Linked DNA regions of Homo sapiens. The protein of the gene in region 1 purifies or fractionates together with the protein of each later gene. This does not show direct contact. Each region holds a gene or a part of one and is shown on either strand. Other genes may lie near its edges.

Evidence for each region. The genes of interacting proteins can lie anywhere in the genome.
Region 2: the proteins of TRAF3IP1 (region 1) and PGK1 purify together in Homo sapiens (affinity purification with mass spectrometry; one study listed by BioGRID and IntAct). This does not show direct contact.
Region 3: the proteins of TRAF3IP1 (region 1) and AHCY purify together in Homo sapiens (affinity purification with mass spectrometry; one study listed by BioGRID and IntAct). This does not show direct contact.
Region 4: the proteins of TRAF3IP1 (region 1) and IFT57 purify together in Homo sapiens (affinity purification with mass spectrometry; 5 studies listed by BioGRID and IntAct, with this or other methods). This does not show direct contact.

What each region holds. Positions count from the first base shown.
Region 1 is NC_000002.12:238,326,208-238,331,227, forward strand, and holds part of TRAF3IP1 (TRAF3-interacting protein 1), read left to right. Parts: intron 1-2,478; coding exon 2,479-2,622; intron 2,623-2,718; coding exon 2,719-3,135; intron 3,136-5,020.
Region 2 is NC_000023.11:78,114,248-78,117,747, forward strand, and holds part of PGK1 (phosphoglycerate kinase 1), read left to right. Parts: intron 1-3,064; coding exon 3,065-3,168; intron 3,169-3,500. UniProt on the Homo sapiens protein: Catalyzes one of the two ATP producing reactions in the glycolytic pathway via the reversible conversion of 1,3-diphosphoglycerate to 3-phosphoglycerate.
Region 3 is NC_000020.11:34,289,856-34,293,355, reverse strand, and holds part of AHCY (adenosylhomocysteinase), read left to right. Parts: intron 1-848; coding exon 849-998; intron 999-1,824; coding exon 1,825-1,937; intron 1,938-2,417; coding exon 2,418-2,625; intron 2,626-2,717; coding exon 2,718-2,805; intron 2,806-2,906; coding exon 2,907-3,024; intron 3,025-3,500. UniProt on the Homo sapiens protein: Catalyzes the hydrolysis of S-adenosyl-L-homocysteine to form adenosine and homocysteine. Binds copper ions.
Region 4 is NC_000003.12:108,163,425-108,166,924, reverse strand, and holds part of IFT57 (intraflagellar transport protein 57 homolog), read left to right. Parts: coding exon 1-71; intron 72-1,431; coding exon 1,432-1,494; intron 1,495-3,195; coding exon 3,196-3,262; intron 3,263-3,500. UniProt on the Homo sapiens protein: Required for the formation of cilia. Plays an indirect role in sonic hedgehog signaling, cilia being required for all activity of the hedgehog pathway.

The sequences.
Region 1 (5,020 bases):
GTAGAAAGTCGGGAACCCTGCAGGCACACTGTGCCTGGCTGGAGGCTGGAGGCTGCAGGCCCAGGCTTCCATGCCCTCTGGCTTTCTCCTTTCTGAGGCTCCCTTGAGGACAGGTGGCTGCTTCCAGCCAGGGCTGCAGTGGCTGCAGGAGCTGCTTTTCTTCTTCCCTGGGTCTTATGGGAGTCTCTGTTCTCTTCCTCCATCTCCAGCCTCTGGTGTCTGCTTGCCTGTTGCCCTTCCTCTCTCTCTTCCACCTTTTCTCTCTCTCTCGGTTGCTGTTTCAGTTGTACGGGGAGTAGATTTTTTCTTTCTTGAGCTTTTCACTGTGGGCTAGAAACTTGGGTGTCAAGGCCTCAGGCTTCTCTAGTTAGGTCCAGCCTGGGCCATGTTTGCCCAAATGTTGGAGAAGGTCTTTCCCCAGGGTCTTCCTTCTTTTGAGGGCCGAGTAGTGCCCTGTGGAGGAGCAGGTTGGACTTGTATTGAGAGTGTAATTAATACAGTTTTTCACATACCTAGTGGGTGGTTGGCTGGGGGCTAACCTTAAATGTGACCCAAATGGGAACAGGTAGGTTTCAGCCCCCTCAACAGCAGTGGGTAGTGGAGGTGCATAGTGGTATCAGGCCGACTCCTAGGAGGCCCCCCCAGTGCAGGTCCAGCATGCAAACTTAGAGACTTGGAAGCAGATCTTGCCAGTACACTGGCCTCTGTCCCTAGGCTCCCCAGCTCCCCTTCCCGGGTCCTTTATGTTTCTCATCTTTCTAAAAAGCACATCTGGCTCCTGTCTCCTCTGCTGAATCATCTCCGGCTTCCAGTAGCCTCGGGTCTGGGCCAGCTCCATGGCACAGCTTGTGAGGCTCCTAGAGACCTGCTGCTACTTCTCTCCCTTCAGATCCTTCTCTCGTTTCCCATATCTGAGCCCTCCATTCCAGTCGCCACGCACCCCTGCATTCGGCCCTGGCCGGCTGTCTCCCGTCGGCCTCTTGCCCTGGTGCCTGCTGGCTTCTTGGTACCTGAGCTGCCTTCCTCCTCCAGCCTCACCCAGCAACAATGTGGCGTCTGTGAGTGCTTCCTTGAGCCTGGGCCTCTCCTCCCTCCCAGGCTGACTTAGGTGCCCCTGTAGGCTTCCTATAGGCTGTTGTTTAATTGTTGTGTTTATCTGTGTCCCCAGTACACGGTGTGTCTTTGGCCTAAATGGAGCCTGGCACGCGGCAATCACGCAGCATGTGCTTGTGGAATGAGTGCGTGAGTCAGTGGGACTCCTGACTGAGGTGTCCTGCACTCTGGATGGCTGTCGGGGATGCTGGAGAAGGAATTTTTGCGTTTGATGGGGCTTGAATCAGATCAGTGGTTTTTTACCCATAATTTTATTATTGTGTTAAAGTCCATAAAACATAAAATTTGCCATCTTAACCATGTTGAAGTGTACACTTCAGTGCTGGTAAATTCATTCATCTGCAGCCATCACCACCTTCCATCTCCAGGACTCTTCTCCTTGCAAAACAGACTCTGTCCCCATGAAACACTAACTTCCTCTTCTCCCGTACCCCAGCCCCTGGCACCCTCCATTCTACTTTCTGTCTCTATGAATCTGACTACTCTAGGGACCTCGGATAAGTGGGGTCATAGAGTGTTTGTCATTTTTTTGACTGGCTTATTTCACTTAATATAATGTTCTCAAGGTTTATCCATGTTGTGGCATGTATCAGAATTTCATCGCTTTTTAGGGCTGAATAATATTCCATTGTAATGGATATACCATATTTTGTTTATCCACTCAACTGTCAATGGTACAGTTTGCTCCCACATTTTAGCTATTATGAATAATACTGCTATGAACATGGGTATACAAATATCTCTTCAAGACCCCGTTTTCTATTTTTTTGGATAAATACCCAGAAGGGGAATTATTGGGTCATATGGTAAATCTGTGCCTAATTTTTTGAGGAGCTGTTATACTATTTTCCATAATGGCTGCATCATTTTACATTTCCACCAACAGTGCATGAGAGCTTCAATTTCTCCTTATCCTTGCCAATGCTTGTGGTTTTGTGTGTTTTTTTTTAGGAGCAGCCATCCTAATGGGTGTGAGGTGGTTAGATAAAATCTTAAGGCACTTATGGCTGGGATTCTATGATCCCATTAGAAGTTTAAGGTATTTGTAGTAGAGTTGCATGGGTCAGCTTTATTAACCTTGAACACACACATTCACATTTGACAGCTTGGGTAGACTTGAACCAGGATTCATTTAGCTTGGGTGGACGCTACTGTTAGTGACCAAAGTGCTGAAAGTAATAGTTATCAAGATATGCTGTGCTTTGTATGTGATAATAACATGTTCAAAAAATATTTTATCCTTTGAATTTCATTGTAGACAGAGAATCTGTCTCATGAGCTATCTTTGAATGGCGATGTTCTATTTGTTACGTGTGCGGATCTCATTTCACCTAACACCTCATTTCCTTCCATTTGGACGACAAGCTCTCTAGTGACGATGCGGTGCGGAGGGTTTTAGCTGGAGAGAAGGGAGAAGTGAAAGGCCGGGCCTCACTGACCTCAAGATCTCAGGAATTGGATAATAAGAATGTGCGAGAAGAAGAGTCCAGAGTTCACAAAAATACAGAGGTGAATTCCAAGTCGCACATCTTTGAAAATGAAATAGTGAGTCTTTTTGTAGTTTAGGTAAAAATATTCATAAATGATTTTATTTTTATTTCGTAGGATAGAGGAGACGCTGAAATAAAAGAGAGAAGTACAAGCAGAGATCGAAAACAGAAGGAAGAATTGAAAGAAGACCGCAAGCCAAGAGAAAAGGACAAGGACAAGGAGAAGGCCAAGGAGAATGGCGGAAACAGACACAGAGAAGGGGAGAGAGAGAGAGCCAAAGCCCGGGCCAGGCCAGACAACGAGCGACAGAAAGACAGAGGCAACAGGGAGCGGGACAGAGACTCCGAGCGCAAGAAGGAGACAGAGAGAAAGAGTGAGGGGGGGAAAGAGAAGGAGAGACTGAGAGACAGGGACCGAGAGCGCGACCGGGACAAAGGGAAGGACAGGGACAGACGGAGAGTGAAAAACGGGGAGCACTCCTGGGACCTGGACAGGGAGAAGAACAGAGAGCATGACAAACCTGAGAAAAAGGTAAAGTCTTGCTGAGAACCTCGCCTTTTGCTTAGCAAGAGTTTGTGGTGGTCTCAAACATGATTTTTACCTTTCTTACAATATGACTAGGAAACTGGTTTTCTTTTATGCCTATTTAAAATGATGACAATCTTGGATTCTCAATAGAAACCCAAAGAGATACTTATTTCTTGTCAGTTGTGTTTTGGGTTTTTTTGTTCATCCCCTAATAGAAGTTTATTGTTCAGCCAATCATTTATTAAGGCATTATTCAGTGAGTTTTTAACCATTTCCTACTTCATGTCCAGGGAGAATTCTGCTGGATTATAAGCTCCCTAAGAGCAAAAGCTAGAGATTTCACTCATGTTCACTGTTGGATGCCCAGTCTGATAGAGTGTCTGACACATAGCAGCTTTGCAGTAAATATTTGGTGGTGGAATGGATTGAGCATCCAGGCAAGGGGTGATGGGCTTTTCAGATCATGAAACACTGGATGGAATTGATCAATTGATGGTGGTTTCTGAGGTCTCCCTTTATGGAATTTTGATCTGGGAGTGGTAGAAGATAATTTGAAGGGGGATGTCAGGAAAATATTAAATGCTTGCTCTTTTTAGGGTTTAATGATTCCCCACCAGGCATGTAGAGAAATCAACGTTTTTCAGAGTTTGAGCTGATTTGCCAAGTTGCTCTTGTCCTTGTCTTGCAGGTGTTTTAAGATGTGTTGCTTCTCCCGTGCGTGTCGTTTGTGTCATTTGTGTCACTCTCAGTATTGCTCTGAAGGCTTTGGAGCAGCCTCCACCTTAGCATTGCAAGCGGTGTTTATGCGCAGTCTGAGTTGTGCATGTGGTGTCTTTAGGAGCATGGACATTGCTCAGTTATTAAGGATTAGGGCTGCTTTCAAGGGCTTTTAGGCATCAGCAGATAAGTACAATAAGACCTGAGTTTACTGTAATTATTGTTTAATTAAATTTTCAGGTAAATTTAGGGTTTGCCAGGAAGTCCTGTTGGTTTCAAACTGTTTTCTCAATGTGTGAATTCTTTCTGGACCCACCATGTGTGTTGGGGACGTTTTCCCAGACACCCAGACACGCATTCTTTGGGGGATGTCAAATTGTAAAGCATCCCGCGAAGATGTTGGAAATCATCTTGTCTCCAGCTGCTAGGAAGGAGGACACTGAGGTCGGGAAGGGATCCAGATCTGCCCAGTTGATCCGGCCGGGCAGTGAGGGGCAGGGCCTGAGCTGGTGCCATGGCCTCTTCCTCCCGGGACAGCCATCTTGTCTTGTGGCACTGCGTCTCAGGGTGTGCCTGCCCAGGGGAGGTGGGTGGGCGCCACAGGACTGACCCTGAGGGAATCCTGTAAACCAGGCTTTCCTGTGGGGGTCAGTATAAGCCCATTTTGTGATCTGTGGGTCACAGTGGGATGGGGGGTGCCTACTGGCAAGACTGTGGTTTTGTTAGTAATTGAACGTAGTGTTCTACAAGGCACTTTGGAGTTTTACTATTTAAAATGTCACTCTTTCCCCCTCCACTGCACATCCTGGAGTAATGTACCCTATGATATGTGTCATACCTGGCTTTCCTTATGAGTCTTAGGAATTACAAAGACATTCCCCATCTTTTGCTCCTTTTTAGAGGTGTAAGAAAAAATATTTTTCATGGACCTGATTTTTCTGAGGCACTAGTATATTCGGGTGTATTTTGCTGTGCATGAGGCATCCTAGGAAGGGGTTAACCTTCCTCAGCTCACAAAGCCTTCGGATTGAGGGTCCCCACGTTATGTTCCCTAAAACTGCTAATGAGGTGACTGGCTTTTTAAGTAGAGAGAAACCATTCCAAAGAAATTCTTAGAGGCTCGGCCGGGCATGGTGGCTCACGCTTGTAATCCCAGCACTTTGGGAGGCCG
Region 2 (3,500 bases), on another chromosome or scaffold:
TTAACTTAGACACCTTTTATTGAAGCATACAATGCCGACACAGCTTGATGGGTTATCTCAAAGTAAACACACTTGTGTAACCACCACCCAGGTCAAGGAATAGAATATTACCAGCATCCCAGAAGCCCTCCTTCATGTTCAGGTGGTGTTTAAATATGTTTGAAAAATATGTGAACACCTTTGAGGTGAAAGAGTATTCAGTGAATATGATGGTCATGATGATGTCACCTTGGATTTAAGGCATTTTCTTAAGATGTGTAAAGTATGTTCCTTTAAATCTCTCTTTAAGATAGAGGTACAGGTATCGACTTATTTCATAAAGAAACTAAGTCTCAAAAAAAAAAAAACTTAAGTTTCTGAAAGGCAGTCATACGATTAAAGTTAGAGGCAGTGGTGCTGTTGGTCTTTAGAGCTCAGCCCATTCAATCAGCAAACTTTTTCTATAAATGGCCAGATAGTTAATATTTTAGGCTTTCTGTGTTGTGCAGTCACTTCCATCTGCATATAGTCTCTGTTGGAACTACTCACCTCTGCCGATGTTGTGCAAAAGCAGCCATAGATAACTCACCAAACAGATTACTGTGAACTGACAACCAGAATTCAAATATTCAATGATAAAACTGGCTCTTTGCAGATGATTTTGAATTTGCCCATTGACTAGAAAGGAAGCTGAAGGCATTTTTTAGTACTTTCCACTATTCTGGTCTTTAGTATCTCGGAGAACAAGATGCTCTGAGTCTAGTGTCTCAGTCTCCTTTGGCTTCTCACATTTATTAAGGTCATTGGGAGTGCCTGCTTTCAAGCAGTTTCTTTTTTTAGCACCAAAGATGCTGGTCTTGCCTTATCCTGCTTTTGGCATGGTCTTGCTGCAGTATTAGGAGTCAAATGCTGACCTAAAATTTGGTGTCCTTTTAATCTGGAACTCATGATGCATGAACTCTAGGGCTTAGAAGTGGCAGGAGGCAAAGGGCATATTGAAGCAAAACTTTTTATTTAGGAAATGATGAGCTGACTATGTAGTCTATGACTTTTTTAGTAAACTGACTTGACATTCACTATCTAATGGCTTTTAATACCTGAAATTTCAGGAGTCAGTCCCAAGTTCAAAATGGATTAAAAAAACAGTGAGGCTGGGTGCGGTGCCTCATGCCTGTAATCCCAGCGCTTTGGGAGGCCGAGGTGGGTGGATCACAAGGTCAGGAGTTCGAGACCTGCCTGGCCAACATGGTGAAACCCTGTTTCTACTAAAAATACAAAAAAGTCGGGCATGGTGGCAAGTGCCTGTAATTCCAGCTACTCCGGAGGCTGAGGCAGGAGAATTGCTTGAACCCAGGATGTGGAGGTTGCAGTGAGCCAAGTTTGCAGCACTGCATTCCAGCCTGGGCAACAGAGCAAGACTCTGTCTCAAAAAAACCACAAAAACAAAGTGAGGATATGAGGACATAAACATTTTCCCTTTATCCAAAGTGCCCACATTGATCTTTTAAGGGCCTTCTCTTTCTTCTAGTTATTTGCAGATCAGTAAATGAGAAATGGGTTCTGATTGATATTATTTCCATGGCACCTTTTTTCATGAAGAGCTTTCAATTTACCCTGTTTTTCCTTAAATATCTTTTTAAAGAGACAGGGTCTTGTTCTGTTGCCCATGGTGGAGTGCAGTGGCATGACATTAATTATTGCAGCCTCAAACTTGAGGGCTGAAGTGATCCTCCTGCCTCATCCTTGTAGGGAGCTAGGACTACAGGCACATACCACCATGTCCAACTGACCTTTACTTTTTTTTTTTTTTCCTGGTAGAGACGGGGTCTTGCTATGTTGCCCAGGCTCATCTCGAACTCCTGGGCTTAAGTGATCCTCCCATATTGGCCTCCCAAAGTGTTGGGATTATAGGTGTGAGCTACTGCCCCTGGCCTCCTTAAATAGTTCGTAAATGGAGGGGTTATTATGCCTTTTTGATAGAAGGGAAAATTTCAGAGCAACTTCCCAAAGGTGACACAATGAATTAGTGTCAGAGCTGGACATAGAACTCAGGTCTCCTTACATTTGAGCATTGTTATCATTACTACATGTGTCATCTTCCAATCACTAGTGGCAGATGTTATTGTAGTCTACAGAGCTTATGGGAGTGCCACAATCTTCAATTTTAGCATTAGTGCCTCTGCAATTCTTTGGATCTTTAGGGAAAAGCCCCATTTTTTATGGCAGTCCCCTTCACCTCCTTGATACATAGGAGCATAGGAGTGGGCAGTGACTTAAAATGAACATCTGCTTTGTGCTATGTACTCTTCTGTGTCCTGTCCCCTTTCATCTGGCTTGCTTCCTGTGCCTCTTTGCTTAATCTCCTGCCAGAGACTCTCTGGTTTGCTTATCCTCCCATCTTGCTTTCTGTCCCCTTTGGGGTATGCCTTGATGGCAAGCTGACATTTTAAAGCTCTATGTTTAACTTCTACATTTTCTTCCTCTCTTTTTGTAGAAGTATATTTCTTGTTTTCTCAGATGCCTAGCTTCCAGAGAAGGTCATAAAATACCTTTTTGTCAATGTGAAGTGTTTCTGAGGTTCTTTTCTGTTGTCATGTTTCCATCTGCCTTCTCTGTCCCAGCTTGCCCTTGTTGCTTTTATGAGGAATATGTGTGAGAGCCCCTTGCACTTCGCAGAAAGGCCTTGGTAGCCAGCAGCTTGAGTCAAGTATGATACTATCACAAGGAGAATGTTTAAAATGAGGAACTAAGTCAAGGAGAGGGAAGGATAATCAGAACCTTGAGCTGAAGGCTGGGGAGAGGCTAGTGGGGTGTGGTTAACTTCATGTGATTAGAGGTAAAGCCATCGTTCAGGAATATTAGGTTTGCAATTTGAGGGAAGTTAAGGGAGAGCAGAAACATGCAGAAATGACCAAAGTATCTGGAATATTTGGAAGAAAGAACACATCCTACTGCTGGTTGTAAAAAATCGCTGTCCCACCTACTCAGGGTCTTTAGAGATGTTCAAGAGGACTCTTGGTGTATGAAATGCTTTTATAGTTGTCTTTGGAGCCATCACATTTTCTGTTTTTGTTTTTCTCTATAGGTTAAAGCCGAGCCAGCCAAAATAGAAGCTTTCCGAGCTTCACTTTCCAAGCTAGGGGATGTCTATGTCAATGATGCTTTTGGCACTGCTCACAGAGCCCACAGGTACCAAGAACCTTGTAGACTACCACACTGAGAACAGTATTCCTATTTACTTGAGTAGCCCAAGCTCTGGGTTGTTTTTGGAGAGTTTTGTATTATACTGTAATCCTTTCAGCTTCTCTAATTGGAACTGCCACTATGGCTCTTGTTGAGTAGCTCTCATCCAAAGAGGAAATAAAGGTAAAAAAATGTTGGTAATTGTAGGGCTTTTTGTGGAGTTTCAGGAAGAGGTTGCTCTTTCTCACCTTAGATATTTTGTACAGAGTTATCCTTTTATGAACGTTATAAGATCAGACTCTCATGCTGTCAGTAGGAAGCAAATTGAGGAATCCTCT
Region 3 (3,500 bases), on another chromosome or scaffold:
TGGCTCTGCTTGGCCAGCGTCCTTTGCTCACAAGAGGCTCCTGGGAACCCCACACCTGTGCCCTAGTCATGCCACATGGGAGGAGTGTGGGCTGGTGGTCAGTAGCCCTCAGTTCTGGTGTCTATTCTGGAATTTCATTTAGAGTGGCCCAAGTGCGTCTTAGCTCCTCTCTGGGCATCTGTAAGTGATGATAATGGTCATGGCTGCCTCACAGGGTTTCTATGAGGAAGAATGAGATGGGGTATGGAGGATTTAGAGTCATGTCTGGCAGAAAGCAAGTACCCCACACATGGTAGCTGCTCGTAGTCATTTTTTGGCCAGACTTTGCCTGAGATTCCCCCACACAGAGGCTGCTAGTGCTCCAGTCCTTTCAGTGCAGAGCAAACCCTGGATCCTGCCGTGTGGATCCTGCTGAGGGGGAGGCGTTGTGGGGTATCAAGCCCTGGTCACTCAGGGTTGATGCCTCAGTCCTTGGCGCCCAGGCAGAAGGGGATGGGAAAGGAAAGAATGATTTCCTGATATCTATATCTGGGGCGGGGGGCTGTACATGGCTTCTGTCTCACTTAATCCATACTATTGTGAGCCCTATTTACAGAGGAGAAGACTGAGGCTCAGAGAGGTGAAGTGATTTGCCCAAGGTCACACAGCTGGCAAGTGGCAGAGCCAGGGTTTGAACTCAGATCTATCTGGCTCCAAGTTGTGTCCTGACCACTGCTGAGTTTTCAGAGGGGCCGGAGGTGGCTGGGGATGGGAGTTGGGAAGGAGGTAGTTTTGGCTCTGCCAGAGTTGTTCCCTGGAGCAGGTACCAGTTGGGAAGTCCAGGCCCTGATGTGCCACTCACCCTCCAGTGTATGCCTGGAAGGGCGAAACGGACGAGGAGTACCTGTGGTGCATTGAGCAGACCCTGTACTTCAAGGACGGGCCCCTCAACATGATTCTGGACGACGGGGGCGACCTCACCAACCTCATCCACACCAAGTACCCGCAGCTTCTGCCAGGTGAGCAGGGCGGGGCAGGTGGGCTGGGTGCTGGTGGCCTGGGTGGGGCCTGTTTGCCCACATGATGGCCGCAGGCCTGGCAGGACTCCCATCACCTCAAGCAGCAGGATCTGGAAGATGGGAGGATGGCAGGCTCTGGCATTCATGCTGGGGCCTCCTGACTTCTGAGGGTGCGAGGCTAGGGCAGCTGAGCTGATGGCCCAAGGGCAGGCACAGACAGGGCCATGGTTGGGAATAGCTGGGAGGGAGCCAGCTTTGTTCAAAGCAGGTACGCAGAGTGCAGAGGCCCTGAGGCAGGAATGGCTGGAGTGTTCAGGAAACAGAAAAGAGGCCCACAGGATAGCAGTGAGCAAAGGGAGCCTTCACTGCGGGTATGGTGTGAACTTCGTGAAGACCAGATGTGTCAGGGCCTAATAGGCCAATAGAAAAGTGTTTGACCTGATTTGCAGAGCAAGGGGAAATAACTGGAGGGCGTTGAGAAGATTTCTCTGAGAAGATACATGTTAGAAATGGCTGCTGCATGGAGGATGGGTTGTGGTAGGGAGACTGGGAAGAAGCGACAGGGTCACGGACTAGAGCAGCGGCAGTGAGAATAGAGAAGCTGGGAGTTGTTCGGAGGCAGAGTCACTAGGCCTGGTGGTGGCTTCCCTGTAGGAGGGCGTTGGGGACTCCTCCCTCACGCGGGTCTGGGTGATTGGGGGGCCTGTGGGATCAGTCACAGAGATGGGAACCCAGAAAGAGGAATGGCTTTAGGGGGTAAAGATGAGGAATTTGCATGAGCACAGGTGTGGCATCTCTGAGGCTTGTCCTGTCCCCTCTTGTTTAGGCATCCGAGGCATCTCTGAGGAGACCACGACTGGGGTCCACAACCTCTACAAGATGATGGCCAATGGGATCCTCAAGGTGCCTGCCATCAATGTCAATGACTCCGTCACCAAGGTGAGCCGAGGGGCAGTGACAGCTCCCGCTACAGTGGCTGCAGCTCAGGACGAGGCCTCTGAAGAAGAGTGCCCAGGAAGGCTGAGATTAGGGACATGAAGCCCTCATTTGAGGGGGCAAAAGCGGTTATAGACAGGCTAATGAGTGCGTTTAAAAGGGGTGTCAGAGCTGGGTGTTAGGAGCTTTATGGCTTTGGGAAGAAGAGCTTTCAAGTTAAGCAAGGTCTTTGACCGGGCAATCTCTCCTAGTAACTGATGCCTAGGAAGGCTCCACACTGGCAGAGAAAGATTAGAGAGAAGCTCTTTGAGCCGATCGGGGTGAAGGGCTTGTGGGGGCATTGGGTGCTGGAGGGGTTCAGCCCAGGCCGGGATGCTTGGTGGGCCCATGATGCCTGGGCTCTTCAGAATACTCTGAGGCCAAGTTGTCCTGGCCCCAGGGCCTTGCCTGCCCCTATTGTCTCCTTACCCCCTTTCCTTTCAGAGCAAGTTTGACAACCTCTATGGCTGCCGGGAGTCCCTCATAGATGGCATCAAGCGGGCCACAGATGTGATGATTGCCGGCAAGGTAGCGGTGGTAGCAGGCTATGGTGATGTGGGCAAGGGCTGTGCCCAGGCCCTGCGGGGTTTCGGAGCCCGCGTCATCATCACCGAGATTGACCCCATCAACGCACTGCAGGCTGCCATGGAGGGTAGGATAGGGCAAGGGTTGGTTGTCAGCCACTGGGGCCAGAGGGAGGGGCAAGGCCACCGTAGATGACCCACAGCCACTGTCTCTGCACAGGCTATGAGGTGACCACCATGGATGAGGCCTGTCAGGAGGGCAACATCTTTGTCACCACCACAGGCTGTATTGACATCATCCTTGGCCGGTAGGTGCCAGATGGGGGGTCCCGGGGAGTGAGGGAGGAGGGCAGAGTTGGGACAGCTTTCTGTCCCTGACAATCTCCCACGGTCTTGGGCTGCCTGACAGGCACTTTGAGCAGATGAAGGATGATGCCATTGTGTGTAACATTGGACACTTTGACGTGGAGATCGATGTCAAGTGGCTCAACGAGAACGCCGTGGAGAAGGTGAACATCAAGCCGCAGGTGAGAAGCTCCCGCCTTGCCAGTGGGCTGGGCAGATGGGAGTGCAGAGGAGTGCTGGCTGCCAGGGAGGAGAGCTGAGGAGATGGTGGCAACCTGTGCAGGGGGATGGGGAGAAGAGGGCCTAGCATCAGAGCCAGCCAGACGTGGCAACCTTATCCTGTGGGCAGCCGGCATCCCTGAAGGTATCAGGCAGGTGAGCTGTATGTGGTGAGGCTGTAGTTTTAGAAAGATCACTCTAGCTACTGTGTGCAGAATAAAAGCAACAATGGCGGGTGGTGGGGAGAGAGGCTTTTAGAGGAGGCTCGTAGAATCCCTGCAGGGGATGATGGCAGCCTCAGCTTAGGGAGTGCTGGGGTGGATGGACGGCATGTGGGGTCAGGATGGAGGCAGAGTAACAAAGGACACAGCTTTGGCCGGGCATGGTGGCTCACACCTGTAATCCCAGCACTTTGGAAGGCCGAGATGGGCGGATCACC
Region 4 (3,500 bases), on another chromosome or scaffold:
AAAAGTACATCAACAATCAGCTTGAGAATTTGGTTCAAGAATATCGTGCAGCTCAAGCCCAGCTGAGTGAGGTAATTTAAGAATGATTTCCAAGGATTTATTCAAGTTAACAACCCTAAACCCTAAACTTGACACAATACTGTTCATTTGAGAATCATGAAATGCTTTTCATGAACAGCAAAACATCAATTTTCTGCCCACTTTAGGAAGCCAAGAGAGCCGAGTGAACTTATTTCCATTTCACATGTAATAGAAGTTGTTTTCTCCTGGAAGTCTTTAAATGCACGTCTTCATTTGATTTAAGTAAATGAAGGCATATGCTGTTGGGGGAACATAGCTTAGAACAGGAACAGAGTATCAGGACACCTGGTTTTGCTTCTATAAGTCTGTTGTTAATTTACCATTGGCGTAGGAGGAAGAAGAATAGTATGCATTTACATGTGTCAAAGGAAAAAGACAGTCCTTGCCATTCTGGCTTACAACCACATAATAAGGAATGTGAAAGCAAGATACATTCAGAGACAAGCAGTTTAATTAATAAAATGAGACAAATTTTTCATTCTTTCAAAGTTTTAGAATTTTAACCAAAAAATAAAATCACTAGACTTTGAAAGCACCAGTTCTTTGTCCCAGCAGTAGGGATCTAAAAGCTTTCCTTTGGGATTTGTGCCCCCTATTTTCTGATGTTAAAGAAGGCTAGTAAGGACAGTTGCAAACATCAGTTGAAGGCATATTTTTTGTCTTCAGCAGACAAAGTTGAGAAAGAGAAAAAAGTAGAAGTAAATTTGAGATACTTCTATACTTTCAGAAGTCCTCAAAGACTAAATAGAAATCTACACTTTTTGATGTTATTTGTTAAATGTATTATTCCTTCATATACACAATTACTTATGAATATTTTAACTATCAAAATGATGTAAAACTCTCTGATCAAAGCCACCATGTATTTGTCTAATATTAATATTATATAATTGATTGTTAGTTTCTGACATACTCCAGTTGAGTGTACTGTCTTACGGGATGTTAATCCTTATTCATCATTGAGCTTCATGCTCTACTTTGATTGATTTTTGGTTTTAGAACGGACTTTCTCTGCGGAGCATGCAAATTAGATTGACCAAGAGCCCCTCTCCTAAACTGTTTAGGAATGACCAAGGACAGTTTTTATTGTGAACCATGCCCATGCGAGGTACACAGTCAGTTTGTGAAGGTTAAGGTAGTTCATCATTTTGTAGTACTTAGTTAAATACATGCTGCCTATTAGGGACATAAAACAGCTACAGTTAAATGTCACTTTCACAAATGTATTCACAAACAAGGAGCAGGGTTGTCATAAAATGACCTGCAGAAATTGCAAACACAAAGAGGTCAGTCGTATTTAATCTGCTGCTGCTTTGAATTTGCCATTAAACAAAATGTTTTTCCTCTCAGGCAAAGGAGCGATACCAGCAGGGAAATGGAGGAGTGACGGAAAGAACCAGACTCCTCTCTGAGGTACACACTGATGCTCTTGCCCTGCTTCTCACCTGTCAGCTGGGCCCCAGCCATTGAGAACCTACAAATGGTTTAACACTGCTAATTTCAGTTGCTTCCTGTGCCTTTAAATCATTTTCTTTAGGAGATAATCCCTAATTTTCCTATGACTGAATCAATAATTGATACATTTCTTGTTTCCACAGGATGCCTGAAGTTTCTGTATTAAATTCAACATAAAACCTGCTCATAATATTAGCACACTTATAATTTTCCTCAACATTTTTTACATAATAATTATTATTAACATGGGGATGAATAGTAAAGCACTGACTTAAGGAATCTATAACAAATTTTAACGTTAGTCTGCAAGATATAAGGTTTATTTTTAGTGACTGTTATTGATAATTTGTGTGTGATCCTGGGTGTATTTCTCTGTCCACAATTGGGAGTGGCTTATAACCTCCTCCTTTAGAATATTTGCATAAAAATAAATAGTTGCATTTATTTTTATGATCTTGCAAGAGAGGTAGGACCTGATATATATTCCCATTTTTCACTGAAGAGCCAAAGGAGGAAAAAACCTTGAAAAAAGGTCAGTAGTTTATTTGGGACTAAAATCCAAGATGATCTTTGGTTACAATCCAGTATAATTGGAACAAACTTTACTGTTTTGACAGGAAAGAATTAAACCTCTTTTATAGAGATTATTTGAGGAATAAAGTTATTTTAAAACACTAAAAATATAACATCAGAAATATTTAGACTGTAATCCTGTGGTGCTTCTAAGCAAATAAAACAGTATGTAGAAGTAAAGTGTTCACTTATGTTAGGTAAATTAACACTTGAAGGGAGTCCAGGGAACCATTTACTTCTTTTGGAGTAGATAGTTATCCCCAGTTGTAACATTTCAGATGCCTGAAAAAATTAATTTGCTTTACTTGGATGAGCACTTTATTCCCAGGGAAAGTTTTACTCACCAGTATGATAAAAATAAAGCCTACTAAGTCACAATAATTATAGCTTAGTTGTAGATCATGTAAAAAATTTTCAATTTCTTAAAGATAGTATTTTCTACTTATATTAATGCTGGTTTGGAATTTTGCTAATAATAGAGGTTATAGTAGTATAATCGCCAGATAGAGTGCAGATAGGAACAAGTGTGACAGCAAAGTATGCCTCCTTGGAGTTCGGAGTTCATGATTTGGATAAAGCAATAAGAATATTCTTATATATAGCCATATGATATAAACATTTTTTAGTGTCCTATAGAGGAAAAAGTGACATAATGTCTTATAGAACTATAATATTAAGAAAGATACCCAGAAAAGCTTTAGAAATCTAAAATCTCTTCAGGATGTTTATACTATTTTAATTAATAACCAGTTATTAGAGAATTTCAAAGTATATGCGATGAGATAATTGCGAGGTTTGAGTGTCTAGTGACTAAAACAACTTTGATTGTGTTTAGTATATTGCAACATGAGAAAACAGATGTGACAGCCATTTGGTGAAGTTTAACATTAGGAGCATTCTGAAAAACTGAAAAGCTTTGTATATCTGCATACTTTATATTATTTGAATTATGTCCAAAATATTCCTAATATCTTTATTTTTCTATATGTGTGGCTAATATCTAAATTACATTTTCTTAACACATAATTCAAAAATTGTGAAAGTTTATTAAAATGTAATGCTCATGAAAACTTGTTTTCATGAAAGGTTATGGAAGAATTAGAAAAGGTAAAACAAGAAATGGAAGAAAAGGGCAGCAGCATGACTGATGGTGGTAAGTACATGCTCATTTTAGGGGAAAAACTGAGCAAGAGAAAAATAGCTCTTCAAGAAACCTACTTAACAAAATAGTATTAATATATAAAACAAATTATTTGTTGCTTGTTTGAAGAGAGATTCATTGTACAAAAATGTCTGATAATCAGCGTACTGTTTTTCTTATAAATCAGCTGAGAAGGGTAGGCTTTTTAACTATAATTTAGAGGTTTTTAACATTCAAACTATTGATTCAA